Homo sapiens: one gene and its partner. The protein of the gene in region 2 interacts with the protein of the main gene of each other region in a pairwise test. Each region holds a gene or a part of one and is shown on either strand. Other genes may lie near its edges.

Region 1 (7,655 bases), on a different chromosome or scaffold from region 2:
TAAGGATTCCATGGTTAGGTCAGTTTATCAAAAAGTTAAATATAATAAATTGGGTTTAAATAATTGGATTTTATATTTGTCATATTTTTTTCTAAATTTGAAAGAATGGCTTTAGAGAAAAAACTGCTTCATCAACATCAAAACACCTCAAAATTATTACAGCGATGATCTCATAATATCACTGAAATGACAGATGAAAAAAATCTTTTCTTGCCCTAATGTAAAATCTCAGCAGGAAGCACTTAAGGTTAACTCCTGCTGACATGTCTAATCAGGTTGTAAAAGGGTTTCAGAGAATTAATCCTTGGATAAGGTGCTTTATACTGAAATAATGTAACCACTTTTCTTTGTAGTAATGAACCTTTTAATTTTAAAGGTAATTCTTCCTTGGGGACTTACTTAGTGCAATTCTAAGTTTTTTCCATATATTAAAGATGATTTAAAGTTGACATAGGGCAGATTTACAGTACACATAAGAGTCATAAAATGAAATGGAGAAAATATTCCAAGTCTTGATTTATGATTGAACCCTTCATAAGAATAATTAATTTACAACATTTTCTACCAGAATTTCCTTGAGACTATAGTTGAAAGAACTAGACTACAATAGATAGTATTGCTTAGTTGAGTACCAAATTTTATTAATGCAGATAATCCAGCTAGTTTAATTTTGATTTAAAACCTTTTTCCTGTCATCCCAACAGCTGTATTTTTACCTATGTGTACAGACATGTTTCATCTCTAGGGTTAATGGAAGTTTTACTATTTTAACGGTTTCTTCCCTCCTTAAAATTCTCTATCCTAGTTATCAGGCAAAAAATGTTTTGGGGCATGCTATTTATCCAGTCTAATAAAGCTAACTGGTAATATTCATCACCTAAAGAGTGATGAATTTAACACAAACAAATTAAACGAATTATTGGGGAGGCAGTCTTTTCTTTTGTTCAGAATTCATAAGGTTTGTGTTGTTAGCATGGTGTATTTTTAAAAGAATGATAAAAATAATCATGTTTAAAGAAATAAATTTACTTTAATGGTACTTTCAAAAAGACTAATCCATAACAAATTAAGTTATACTGTATTTCCTTTGCTACCCAGAACCACAGGGCTGGTTGTCAACACATATTGAAGAAATGTAAGCAAAATACAGAAAGTGATGATTTTCAAAAGGAAGAGAAGAAACTCCTTTTCAACAAACACTTTATATCATTTATTAATGCAGTATACATTAGATCTAAAATCTGCAGTTTCTAAGCACACCATGTTTAGATCTTTCAGATCCTTCTGCAGTTTTAGGTTATTTCTACAGAGGTACCTTTAAGTGAATGAATACCACATTCTGTAATTCCTGAAAATATAGTACAGAGTGAAATGATTTAAATATAATTTAGGCACATATTGATTATGAAAATAGATTATCTCTCAATACAATACTTCTCTGTCTTGGTAAAAATAATAAAGCAAAGAAAATAATTCATTTCTGAAGTTGCTTTCCTTCACTTGTAAAGGTCTGATCTCCTCCCACTATGCATATGTACCCTTTACTGTTAAGGAAAGCTTTGCATATGTAGATATAGAAGAATAAGCTACGTAAATACTAAAGATATGTCATTCTCCCAAAGGAGACACAGGTGGTTTTCAATGATTCCTTGCCTCATGTTGATGAGTCTGTAGAATTCAGAACCCATTTGGACACAGCTAATATCCCTGCTCTTGGGGTAGAAAATAAGGACACCAAGTCATTGGTAGGGAGGTACAGGCCCTTCCTCTGCTGCTGCAGAGAGAGAATGACTCAAGAAAATTGGGCTAAAATTTGTTTAAAAAAAAAAAACCACAAAAAAATAAGTAAAAGAATCACAGGTGCTGACTGATTGATAATTACATCTTGGACCAGCCAAATGCCTTTATTTTTACGTCTATTTTTTTGGTGGCTGTAATCAAATGTGTGTTTAAAATTCCTCATTCCCCACTGTAGGGTTCTAGCTGCAATTATATTACATTGCCTTTTAGCAGGCAACTCTACCATATTCACTCATATAAGCTTTGATTGCAGTAGCTCTGGATTTAGTATCTATTTCTAAGCTGGCCCTATGTAAACTATTTGGTATTTGAATTAAATGAATATTAATGATGCACCTTGGTTTTTTTGGTTTTGAAGTATCTTCCTATGCTTGTGATGACTGTATGAGAAAACTAGGCTAATAGTGTAAATAGATAGAATTGCTTGATCTGGTGTTGAGTGGAACTTGCCTAGAATGAAATTCTGAGAAATTCTCATTTGTAAGTGTTGTAGTGATAGGTAAGTTATTCCTCCATCCAGAGTTACACTGTACCTTTGGAATGACAGTGATGTACAATGATGTCTTTCTTTCCACTCTGTCTCAATCAGTAAGAACTGGATATTACTTTAATTTAGCTACTGTTCTGTCCTAAAAAGTAAACATTATAAAAATGAACCTGAAAAGAGTCTTAGGGAGTCTGATCTCACCATATTCATACGGTGTGACAGGTATTTAAAGAGGGGAGGCATCACTAAAGCTATTTATAAACCTGAACAACCTTTTCCAAGTTTTCATAAAGTTTTAACAATTTAAATATCCATACTGCATCTAGGAATTCAATAAATATAATTGCATATGTTGTGCTTTCCATAAATTAAAATCCTCAAATGCATCTCAAACCAAGATGGTATTTCCACATCATGCCTATTTAAAAGCAAATATAATAGATACTATGCCTGGTCATAAAACCAGGTAAACCCCCCTACCCCATTCAAAAGGCAGCAATATCTAGTTTCCCTACATCTATTAAATGAGTGCTTTTCTGTTAAAAATCAGAATATGGAAAAAAAGTCAGTTTTTTCCCTTATGCACCACTCAAAACAAGCATAATCCTCTAAATGTTTTTTTTTTAAATTTCCTTACAGTGTTATTTCTTCTAGACAACTGAGTGGGTGGAGAAAGAAAAGTGATAAGGAAAACATTTTCATCTTTTACATCTTCCTCCAGCCCCTAAAATTCTCATCTGACACTTTGTGACATGTGTAGTGGTGTCAGCATCTCTTCAAATATAGCTCCCTTCACGTTGGACCCTCTCAGGTTGGCTTCTTGAAGATCACACCCAGACAGATCACAATTCTGCAAGATGAAAACAATATTCATGTAATTCATGTGGAAATTTCAGGCCTTATCTATTTCTGCTCAAAATGATTTCTGGGGCAGATTAGGAAAATGTTCTTATACAATAAAACTCAGTTAATTTCCGGAAAACTGATGATACACCACCCTAAATTAAGATGTTCTTCTATCTTTATTTGTTACCTCTAGTTCAGGCTGATCACCATAAATATGTATAAACAAAGGTTAAAGAGGAAGCATGTCCCTTGTTCTTGCATATTTTATAAGGAGACATTGAAAACAGGGGTCCCCAACCCCTGGGCCACAGACTGATACTGGTCCATGGCCTGTTAAGAATCAGGCCACACAGCAGGAGGTCACCAGTAGATGAAGCTTCATCTGTATTTACAGCCAGTCCCTGTATGGCTCAAGTTACAGCCTGAGCTCCACCTCCTGTCAGATCAGCAGGGGCATTAGATTCGCACAGGAGCGTGAACCCTATTGTGAACTGCACATGTGAGGGATCTAGGTGGGGTACTCCTCATGAGAATCTAATGCCTGATGATCTGTCACTGTCTCCAACACCCCCAGATGGGACTGTCTAGTTGCAAGAAAACAAACTCAGGGCTCCCACTGATTCTACATTATGGTGAGTTATATAATTATTTCATTATGTATTACAATGTAATACTAGTAGAAATAAAGTGCACAATAAATGTAACGCGCTTGAATCATCCCAAAACCAGCCCCCGACTCTGATCTGTGAAAATATTTTCTTCCACAAAACCAGTCCCTGGTGCCAAAAAGGTTGGGGACCACTGATTTAAAATACAGAATGGATTCCAACATAATAAATACACACACACACACACACACACACACACACACACAATTTTTTTTTTGAAACGGAGTTTTGCTCTTGTTGCCCAGGCTGGAGTGCAATCTCGGCTCACTGCAACCTCCACCTCCAGGATTCGAGCTATTCTCCTGCCTCAGCTTCCAGAGTAGCTGGGGTTACAGGCACTCACCACCACGCCTGGCTAATTTTTTCTATTTTTAGTAGAGACGGGGTTTCACCATGTTGGCCAGGCTGGTCTCAAACTCCTAACCTCAAGTGATTCGCCCACCTTGGCCTCCCAAAATGCTGGGGTTACAGGCATGAGCCACTGCGCCTGGCCCCAAAGTAATAAATATTATCAAAACAATTTTACTATGATCCAAGAACAACAACAACAAAAGGAATGAGATGGGGGGAAGACTTTTTTTTTAATCTGAAAAGATTTTACTTAATCAAATTGTGTAATAGATTTTTCCATTCCCTAGCCCTAGTATTTTTATAGCAAGGAACTGCCCTTCTTTTTAAAGCCCCAAAGGTACGTATATAATACAGTGAGTTTGACAGATGTACAGAACAGTGTAACCACCGCAATTTGAAGCTATTTCTTAATTTGTCTTGAGATCACGGAGCAATAAGATAGAGATTCCACTTAAGTCCCTGGATATGATAGGGGACAATGGTTAGAGAGAAGGGTGACTAAACGTAACCTGTTAGGAGAACAAATGTCAGCAGCTCTCCCCTCAATAGTCAACCTGATCAGTCTTTGCAATCAGAGAGAGGGAGGCTTTTGCTGCTAGGCCACACTGAGTACACAGTACTAAAACCAAGGAAAAAAATATAATCTTAGGTGAAAGTAATGTAACAAACAATAAATAATTGTGCTCGTGATAGGATTATACTTAGGCCAATTCTTTTTGCCTTGAAGTTGAAAGGGGCCTGCTACTCTGCTACCGAGAGCTATCAAGATATCTAGGCAAAAATATTATGAAAAAACATTAACAGCAAGCTAAATTTTGACATACCGTTCTCTGCTATCCAATTTATACCAGATTTCATAGCTACCAGCCACATGTGGCTACTTAAATTTAAATGAATTAAAATTAAATAAAATTTAAAAATCAATTTCTCATTTGCACTAGCCAAATCTCAAGCGCTCAATAGCTATATATGGGTGGTAGCTACTATACTGAACAGCACAGATATAGAACATGTCCCTCCTGCACAAAGTGCTATTGGATAGTGCTGATATAGACCTATCAACAGCTATCAAGTCTGCTAGCTAAACTGGCAAATTAAGAAGACATACAAATATAATTCTTTGAAAAAGATGACCAGGCAAAATTATAATCTCAAGCTGAAAACCAAAAAACATATGGTTCCAATTTCAAATAGACTTTTCCTGAACCTGATTTCAAACCTGGATATCATTTAAATTTCTCAAGTAGTTTAAGAAGTAATCTAGCCCATTTAATTCTATTCGGAATTAAATTTTATGGAAAATGCAATACATTAGATAACACATCTATCAAACTTATTTACTTGAGAAAAACTCAAGGAAAAGGAGAGAAATGAAATCAACTTAGACTGAATGTCAGATGAGTCTTCCAATCCAGTTTTACCAGCCAACTACTTTGTTTTGATTTCAATAAATTTTGCATGAGATGCTTAGTAAGTCTAGAGTAATAAAAATTCTTAAAGTGTTGGTGAACTCACCTCTAAATCAGTTCCTGCCAGAGTTGCTCCTCTGAGGTTACAGTTCTTCAACTTTGCATTTTTTAAGGTAGCCACTCTCAGGTTAATTCCTGTCATCTGACTTCCTTCCATATCCACACCTTTCAGATTAGCACCTACAGTGAACACATTCTGGGAGTAGTTTAACTTAAAAATATAGTTATCTACCTTCAACAGAACTGCAAGATGACTTAATGGAGGCCTCTTTTAACTTTTGGAAATTAATCTAAAATCTTGTCTCTCAACGAACTTATATATATAAACAGTTTACTGATGAAAGAATGCTTTCACAATACTTTTGAGGGAAGAAATTTAGTTCTGTCTTATGATAGTTAGCACTTTCATAATATGCCTCTACAGGTTTATGATAAGGGAGTGAAGTAGTCTCCTAAATATACAAGTAAACAAAGTGATCAGTCACAGATAGTAACAAATTAAGAAACAATACATTAAATCTAAAAATGATTTTTAAAAACTCCCTGGCTTTATGCAAATGAAATTTTTCCTTTTGGTCAGTGTAAGAATATTTTATTCCATTTGAAAGTTTAAGATGTTGATATTTAATTTTCCAACTAAAACCTTATTAAATATTTGAGGTTTTATTTTTTCTGAGTCCTCAATTTTGATTAGCATTTGACTGAAACCAAATGGAGGTTTCTTACCACTTTGGAAGTTCTCCAAATATGATGACAGAAGAAACCTATCCCCTACAGCTATCCTGTTTCACCCTTAACAATTATTTTCCAGGGCTTTTTTCCTTTACAGTCTGCTTCCTTCGTAGAATAGGTATTTACAGAAAGGATCTCACCTTCTAAATTGGCTTTAAGACCAGAAGGATCCTCAAAATTACACAGTTTCAGGGATGCTCCTTCTGCATTAGAACAGAGCATCTTGACTCCCTGGAGATTCGCACACTGCAAAGAAAAGAGAAAAGTCCTGGTTGTAAGGTTCATAATTTTGTTCAAATTAGCTCAAACAGTAAAAGAAAAAAAATAGAAAAGAGGGAAAGGCTCAACTCAAAACACTCATACTCAATTTTATTTTCTGTTTACAATAAAGGCTTTTCTAATTAAATACAGTAAGAACTGGGAACATTTGAAAGAAAAATTTTTTTAAAGAACTGTTTTTTAAAAAATAAATGCAAATTAACAATAGCATGCTCATTTTACATGAAACATAACGGTTTAGATAAAGAAGTTGGGTGAGTCAGAACTCTGACACCTCTATCTCTATTTTTATAAACATACCTATGCATGACAATGAAACAGTCAAAATGTATGGGTAAGGAAGGCATAGACTTGTTAGGGGTATGGATTTTCTTATTACTGTAGGAATCTTGATGTTCTAAGTGAAATTCTTGATATTCTAAGATGCTACTACTGCCCTCAAGTCAGAGGTCAGAATACAAAAGCCAGCATTTAAAGGCATTATTTAGCTAGAAAACACTAACAAGATGCTGGCTGGGTCTTTCTGCACCAACCATGGCTAAACATTATTAACCCTGAGCAGGCACATCACAATGCATAATGCAGGGCAGAGAGTAAAATGGTAGAAAATATATGTTTTAAGACTTTATTTTTTTGTTTTGTTTTGTTTGAGACAAAGTCTCACTCCGTCACCCAGGATGGAGTGCAGTGGTGCTGTCTCAGCTCACTGCAATCTCTGCCTCCCAAGTTCAAGTGATTCTCGTGCCTCAGCCTCCTGAGTAGCTTGAATTACAGGCATGCACCACCACGCCTGGCTAATTTTTGTATTTTTAGTAGAGACGGGGTTTCGCCATGTTGGCTAAGATGGTCTTGACCTCAAGTGATCTGCCTGCCTCTGCTCCCCAAAGTGCTGGGTTTACAGGCATGATCCACCACACGCAGCCAAGAGTTTTAAATTATGTTCATTTATCTCAAAGCGTTTTTGACAAACATCTTTTTTTTTTTGTCCTTAACACAAACAAAGATGCCTCTCGACATTTCACT
Region 2 (8,608 bases):
CTTTATATAGAATTCCTGAAACATATGTTCCCACTGAGCTAGTAGCCCTGATGTTAGTTTACACTACACAAATGATAACTGATAAGGAAATGATGGGATTAAGCTGTTCAGGGACTTGCAATAACTTGCTATGATAAGAGCAGCTGCCGTATCAGTTTTATTAACCCACTAAATCACTACTAATAAATAAGATAATAGCTTTTGTCCATCATGTCTGAAAACCAAGATTTGGCTGATCAAAGTCTACAAAAAATTAAAATGTAACTTAAAATCAAACAGTCTACCATGTGTGTAAAATCTATTTGTGGGCTCAATTATGTTCTCCTTTACTTAGCCAAGCCATTCTGAGCAAGGGTGGGATACAAGGTTTTTGCTTATCATTGTACCCGAGGGCCTAGTTAGCAACGGGACCCTCAGTAAAATGCTTATTAAATAATTAAGATGAGTAGCGAAAGTTCTTTGCCAGCAGGTACCCTGTTTTACAATTCTTTGCATCTCAAAAACTCTTTAGCATCACGCTTTGTACATCCATGTCAGTAGGAATGGACTGATTATTCTCAATGTATTCATAACCATAAAATATGCAAGAATGATTCTTCATTATTATCCTTATAGAACTTTGTTTCATTTTTTATTTATTCAAAACCTCAATTAAAAAATATCACAGATAATAAAACCAGGTGTATACTTTTGGAATTGGTAGTAAAACTAAAGGGAAGAAAAGAAGAAACATGAAAGTAAAGTCAATTTTTATCTTGGTATTGGGAATGTACAGTGTCTGCCGCTGGGGTTGCTGGTTTTCTTGGCTGGCAGGGGATGGTAAGCGTGAAGGAACTGGATAGAGAGCTGAGCTGCTAATGGACCTGCAAATTGACTGGCTTTGTCCCCAAAGCACACTTGTTAGGTGCCCTAGAGTGACGCTTCCTGACCCCTCATGTTCATCTTTAGAGATTTTTTTTTTCCATAACCATCAGCAGCAGTGGCCTTTGATGTGGAATGTTGAACTTGCCACTGAAAACAAATTACTCCATTTTTAATTGTTCCTAATTTTGACAGTGGATGATATCTGGCCCTACACAGTGATCCTGTCTGTTTAGATTTTTTTGTTTTATTATTTTTTTATTTTTGTTTTGTTTTGTTATGTTTTGAGATGGAGTCTCGCTCGGTCGCCAGGCTGGAGTGCAGTGGTGCGATCTCAGCTCACTGCAACCTCCGCCTCTCAGGTTCAAGTGATTCTCCTGCCTCAGCTTCCTGAGTAGCTGGGACTACAGGTGCGCACCACCACGCCCAGCTAATTTTTGTATTTTTAGTAAAGACAGGGTTTCACCATGTTAGCCAGGATGGTCTCAATCTCTTGACCTCCTGATCCTCCTGTCTCAGCCTCCCAAAGTGCTGGGATTACAGGTGTGAGCCACCACATCCAGCCTATTTTTTTTTGTTTTAATATATCTGTTTTAAATATTTTATCTCTTCCATTTAATTGAATAAATTTTGGGCTCATTTTATACAGTCAAACTTTTTCATCTTTCACTTTTCAGTGAGGGAAAGAAGTAGCACATGCACAAATGTGAGAGCTGTGAAGACATTACTGTAATTAACAGCCAGTTATTTCAAAACTTAGGAAAATAGAACTTGAAAATAGACACCACATTCATTCATGATTTTTAGGCCCTACTAATCATCTCTTTGTCACATAGATTAGTGTTTTCCAAACTTTGGGTTTTATATAGGGACCAGTAAAATTTAGAGAGTGACATTGCTTCATGAACCTCAAAGACATCTAAGAACAATTTTTAAAAAGAGGGTGCTATCTCATGCCCAGAGTACAGGAGAACCTTTTGAGTCAATCATAATCTAAAATAAATTCTGATAGTCCCCAGTGAGATGACTGGACATACTCTAGCTATCCTATAATAATTTGGCCAAACTGAGAACTCATTTTTTAAGTAATCATCATCAGAACAGTTTCACAATGTTTGTATGTATTAGTATGCAATCCAAGGAAGTTAAAATAAATATCACATTTATTTATATTTTTTAAATAATTCAACAAATATTTAGTAATACTATGCTAAAAGTACTGTATTAAACACTACAATAACAATAAAATGTTTTGCAAAATTACTAGTAAAATTGGGAGAAATTATGATTCCCTGATTTTCTAAGGTATACTTACTTTATATTTCTGTCTTTCATTCAGTTGTTCATATTTCCATAGAAACATAAAAATATTTTTATAAAATGTAAGTTTATGAAATAATAGCCATTAGAAATGTTTGCAAAGATAATATATAACAGAGACATGTTTAGGACTAAAATTAAAAGGCAGAAAATAAAATTGTGCTACAAATTTGCTGTTAATATAAAACACAAATACCTCTAAATTAAATGCCTTACAATTGTGGCATGGTAAAGTGTTGTTTGTTCTCTGAAGAAGAATCTAATATGTTAATAAAGTTTAAGAACTGTTAGATCTGTTAAAAAAAAACTTAATAAAACTTATATGTCAAAAATCAAACATTCAATTGAATAATTATTTGTTGATACGATTGATATTGGAAAAAAAGTAGTAGGCTTCCCTACTTTTACTAGCAGATAAAACATAAACTTTAGAGTCAGATATACTTTGATTCAAATGCCAGCATTGTTATTATGTATTATCTATGTGGCCTTGGGCAAGCCAATAACCTTTGAAATGCAATTTCCTCATTTGTAATACAGTAATTCCTATCTTCTATCATTATTGCAAGGATTAGAGATGAGTGCATGCATCTGTGTGTGTGTGTAATACTCAGTAAATAACTTCTAATTGTAGTGCAGATATTTTATATTGAGTCATTAATTTTTTATTATTAAGGATAGTGCGGTTGAAAGCATATTCACTACTATATTCATTCCTATACTTTATCTCATTTAACTCTCACAACAATCCTATAAGATATTGTATACCCACTTTACTGGTGAAAAGCTGAATAACCTTACAATAAATCACTAGCTGGAAAGCTGGTGTCACACAGCTATACATGGAAACATCAGATTCATGTTTAAAGTTGTCCAACTTTAAAGCCTATGTCCCTAACCATTAGGCTATACTGCCTTTTGATATTCTATCTTCCAAGATAAAAGCTAAGGATATTTCTTGGAAATAAAGGCAGAAACATACCTAGCTAAGAATAATTATGTCAAAAAAATTACTATTTACAAGATATACAAACTACATTTTGCTATATTTTTACCATATGTAGTTTAAATATGGAAAATTAATTTTTCTCTATGATATAAACATATCAAAAAAGTCACGTCACAAATATCAAATGGCATATCAGCACAGCAGAAAAAAATTCAAATTGTTAATGCCTTGCTGTTGGGCACATCTATGGCTCTTGGATTCAAATAAATTGCCCGAAGTCACCCCATGTTGTTACATCAACCTAAGTACTAGAGCCCCACTGTGACACAATGGACAGGGTTAATGATTCATCCCTAATCCTAAAGGCTCCTTCAAAGATTAATTGACTTTCCCTGCAGCCTGCCAGCCCACCCTCTTATAGATCCTGTCAAGAGGGTTTCTCTTCATTGCTCGGCCTCTTTTCCCCCTATCTATTTACTTTAAACACTATCTGATCTTTCCTCAACCAATACAATTCAGTAGGAATCAAATTCAGTAGAAATCAGTCAGTTAAACTGATCAAACTTTGAAATAAAGTTGACTTGGTTAGAAGGAAGGGACCCATTTTGCCTTTTTGAATCTGGCACTTTATTTATTCTTTCCAGGCCACAATAATGTTAACATTAATTGCAATCAATTAAATAAGTATTAATTGATAATCTATTATATATCGACCAACAGAAAGAATATAAAAGTGAATGAGACAAAGTTTCTGTCCTCAAAATATGTATTATCTGTTTAGAGGAGGAGATAAGTTAATTTCACATTAAGATAGGTACCAGCAAACTGCCACAGGGTGCAGAGAAGGGACCTACAATAAATCAATGGACTAAAAAAAGATCTAAAGGAAGAAGTTCAAGAGACATTCTTTCAAATGGGTAAAATTTCAACATACATATATGGGAAAAGGCATTCTCCAGGGGAAGACAGCATAAACTTAAACAGAAGACTGGCAGTTGGAGTGAATCAAAGGTTACTGGGATAATTATTTGGTGAGCACATAGACTACATGCTAGAAAGTAAGAAATAGGTGACATAGTAAAATGAACTTGGACTAAATCATGATGGACCTTGAATGTCAAGTTGAGGAAAGTTTGTTGTTAATAGTAGAAATTATGAGCCAGTGGAGGTTTTGAACATGGAAGAGATATGATTGAATCTCAACTTTAAAAGGTCAGTTTGGAAAAATTGCATGAATGGACAAGAAAGACAGAGTCAAGGCCAGGCTATGAAAGTAGCAATGAGGAGAGTCATATTCAAAAGAATTCAAAAAGTAGGACCTATGTTTTTGCAAGTGTCTAAAGCTGAGCTATCCAATAAAGCAATAAAGCCACTGGCCATATGTGGGGGTAAGCACAGGAAATGTGGCTAGTCTAAACTGAGATGTGATGTAAGTGTAAAATACACACTAGATTTCAAAAACGTAGTATGAAAAGAAGAATGTAAAATATCCGATTAATAATTTTTATATTGATTCCATAGTGAGATAATAATGTTTTGGATAAATTGGATTACATAAAACATTAAAATTAATTTCGCTTGTTCCTTTTTACTTTTTAAACGTGGCTTCCAGAAATTTTTGAATTAAATATGTGGCCACATTATACTTTCATTGATCAGTGCTGGATGTGATGTCAGGGCAGAAGGAGGCAGTGGACAAGCCAGAAAAGGAGTGGTAGAAGAGGGAAGAGGGCCTAGATAGTACTATGACAGAGAAGCTATAGAGGTAGTTTTCTGTATTTATTTTAAGAGGGCATTATCAGTTGGTTCAAATGCTAAGCAGGAGCCAAGGAAGATGAGTAACAGTAAAAACCAGCCATTGGATTTTTGCCCAGGTAGGAAATGGACTAGGTCAGAGGGATGTGATCAGTGGTAAGGGAAGCAACAGCTCAAAGGGGGAAATACTAGAGCAATCATGAAGGTTGGAACTTTTTTCTTTCTCAGCATAAAGGAGATCTGGACATGCTCATAGGCAGAAGGAAAGGAGAAACTGAAAACACAGTACGCATAGAAAATAGCTGTTGAATGAGAAACTGTACCTGGGAGTTCTCCAGAGACTGCCACAACAGAGAGGAAAATTTAAAGACATAAAGAGGGGGAATGTGTGACAGCTTAGTTTATGTTTATATTTACCTTAAGAGATGACCAAACAGGTCATCTGTGCATGTCATTTGTCTTAAAGAGAAGAGAAGGAGATATCAAGAAATTATTGTCTCAGAAAGAAAACTAGAGGAAGAACCTGAAGCATGCTAAGGCACTTCCTTCCTACTCAAAGCTCTTTACCCCCTGGTTTGGGCCTTGCTCTTTGGGAGCGTTGCATTCCTCCTCATAACACTGGTGCCTTCAGTAACAGCTTTAAGATTATGAAAATGACTCATTTAAATTATTTCAGCAGAAATAATAATACATTATTATTTTCAAATGTAAAATTTGCTTTTTAAACATTATTCTAAAATCTTTTTTTTTTTTTCAGTTCTCACAGTTGATAAAAGTCTGCTTCATCAAGAGAATACCTGGTTCTCTTTGTACTGACAAAGACAATACTTATTTTACATCTGTGTCAATCTTCATGCACAAGAGCAGAACCTGAATATGTTCACTGGTATCTTACTTTGAATGGCCTCTTGTTCCAAGCCGCCTTGTTGTTAGGAGGGGAAACTTCTGGCGAATTGTCTAAAAAGAAAGATGATTACTTTAGGCGTTAGAAAGTATATGGTCCTAATGCAAGCCACTCATAGCCAATTACTTGGGGAAAGTAAATGTTGAACTCTGAATGAACTGTGAGTGAATACTTAGTCTGGAAAAAGTAATAACTTACACATATTGATAAGCAATACATCAGCAGAGGCAGGGAGGTACTTTTTTGATTGAAGTGCTCTACTGACCTTGTCTTGATTTCTAAGGCAGATCATACCAATATCTGCTTTTGCTTGATGGTACTACCAAAGCAATTATTACTTTATTTATGTATGGAGTGAGAAGATTTGGGTCTCTTCATATAATTCCATACAGAGATTTACCCACAATTAAAAATCTATTCCCAACCCCAAAGGACATATAAAACTTTCTCTGCCTTACTGTATCTCCATTATAATGTTATAAATTTTTTGTTTTGTATGTTCCTTTCTCTAAAGTTGCTAAAATTAGGATCTGATTAAACATTTTTTAAAAAGTCTTCTACATAAAACAATTTTAACCTCAATCTTTGAAGATCCATACATGAACTTTAAAGAGCTCCATGGCAAACTATGTATGTATTAATTTCTTGGAGGCTGGCTCTACAGTTTTACCAGGTTTTCAAGGTGCTTCATGACTGCCAAACAGTTAAGAATTATTCCCATAAGGTAGACTCACAAAATGGTAATGTTAATATGGATATTAGAAGTTGTCTTATCCAAACTCCTCATTTAATAGAATGAGTAAACAGATTTTTAAAGAGATTAAGTGCTTTTCAGAAGGTCTCACAATAAATTAGTCCAGTCTAGGCTAGAACCCAGGTTACCTGATTACAATGTATAATATCACACTCTCTCTGTAAATAGATAGGTTTTTGAAATAAATAACATTATTTTTTAAATGAGAAGCTGGACTGTAGTATTCATTATTTTCTGGACAATGAGTCCCTCTACAGGTTAGAATCTGGATTTCAATTTGTGTAAGATACAATATTTGAGACCCAAGCTTCCTAAAGTTTTTCTGGGATATCCTAGGTTCTCAAACACAGCATGACATGAATCTTAAAGAACAAGGCTTTCTTAAGACATTCATATTGATTCTCAAAGTGATGTCTCTCTCTCTATATATAAGCATAATAATGTCAGTTATATAGATTCCCATCCTAACCACACAGGTTGGGTAGAAAGAAATATTTTTAAATGAGAGAATTCTAACCCATCCCATCATAAAATCTTGGGATTTGGAATGTAAACATAGAGTGAAATGGAGAATTAGGAGAAATTTTAATACATTTTAAAACCTATTAAAAACTCATATATTTGGACTAGGTAAATAGTATGGATAACCACTAACCACTAATTGCATTAGCAAGAGACTTGTCACCTCCACTTAATTTTGCTTCTTACCACAGGCCATACTATACACTTTAATGCATCCCTCTTTGAAGGCAAATGCTACTGCTTAAACAAAGCTTGCTTTAAATTCACATTAGATCTTCTAATAGTTAGGGTTCTAATATTCAAAATCAAGTTATAAACATATAGCAATTCCAAACAGAGTCCTTAAGACAATTTATGCCTGCAAAACAAATGTCTCAATATTCTCTAAGAGAACTTGCACAGATGAATTCATTTTCATGCTATCTGCCTGACATGACTTTAGTTATAAGTCACTATAGCCAATACGTGTCATTTACCTTTCCAAAGGTGGCCGCACAGGCTGGCTCTAATTTCTCTTTCCTACAGAAATCTAAGTAGTGTGCATAAAGAATGCACCGTGGTAAGCAAACTCCTTCACATACAATGTAATTCTCTTCAAGCCTAAGAAAAAGGAACAAAAATTAGGTCAAATATTTTATTTCCTTTTCCTTCAACTTTCTCATTGACTTATTACCCATTTTGAATATGGACTCTATAAATGAGGTAATGAGTAGACATAAGTAGACTTCGTTTATTCTGGATATTTTTTAAAAATCAAATTATAAGGATTAATGTTAAAAGTACAAAACCCCAGTGAAAAATCTGCTAGTACAGTTAAAATATCATGGCTAACATAAAACCATGCCTGGTCCACATCACAAATATTAGGTCTTCTATATAAACCTCATGGTTCATCATGATTTGCTCTGTGACATATAAATATGAATGGTGAAATTGAAGATGATGGGTATTTTTTAAAACATTCTTAGTACTAAAGGGCTGTCAAGCTTCAGGTTGGCAAATGCTTACATTCTCTCACTTTCATTCAAAACCTATTTCTCAGCCCTGAATAATTAGGGAAGGACAATGATGCATTTATTTGCAAAACACATGAGGATAAACTCATTTTACTTAAGTCTGAAATGACACTGATATATTTCTATTCCTATACTTTTTACTACTGTCATCAGTACTATAATTATCTAAAACATCCTATACACTTAAAAGATAATGTAATTCTCTATAGATATCTCCAAACATAACATATATACCTTCAACTTTATATTATAAAAATAACTATATAACCTTTGAAAATTTGAAGTAATTCCATTTAATTTGTAACTAAGCATAACTTATATAAATGTAATAAATACATATTTGTGTTACAACTTTCTAAACAGCAATGTAGAAATTAAACTTTTAGATTCCAATCCCAGTTTTCCTAACAGTTCAGTAGGTGATTTTGACTAAAATTTACTTATACCAATTTTATGTATAGTAAGATAATATTTATTATAATGCAGAAACGATGCAATATAGAGTCTGCAGATTAAAATTGGATGAA

The links. Proteins that work in one complex are often made in the same cells at the same time.
Region 1: the proteins of RFX6 (region 2) and KCTD9 interact in binary tests that used the Homo sapiens proteins (3 or more experiments, as listed by UniProt).

Annotation. Positions count from the first base shown.
Region 1 is NC_000008.11:25,426,837-25,434,491, forward strand, and holds the end of KCTD9 (BTB/POZ domain-containing protein KCTD9), read right to left. Parts: intron 6,600-7,655; coding exon 6,494-6,599; intron 5,818-6,493; coding exon of another isoform or gene 5,802-5,817; coding exon 5,668-5,801; intron 3,138-5,667; coding exon 3,021-3,137; 3' UTR 1,011-3,020; downstream 1-1,010. UniProt on the Homo sapiens protein: Substrate-specific adapter of a BCR (BTB-CUL3-RBX1) E3 ubiquitin-protein ligase complex, which mediates the ubiquitination of target proteins, leading to their degradation by the proteasome.
Region 2 is NC_000006.12:116,879,601-116,888,208, reverse strand, and holds part of RFX6 (DNA-binding protein RFX6), read right to left. Parts: intron 7,666-8,608; coding exon 7,542-7,665; intron 5,843-7,541; coding exon 5,781-5,842; intron 1-5,780. UniProt on the Homo sapiens protein: Transcription factor required to direct islet cell differentiation during endocrine pancreas development. Specifically required for the differentiation of 4 of the 5 islet cell types and for the production of insulin.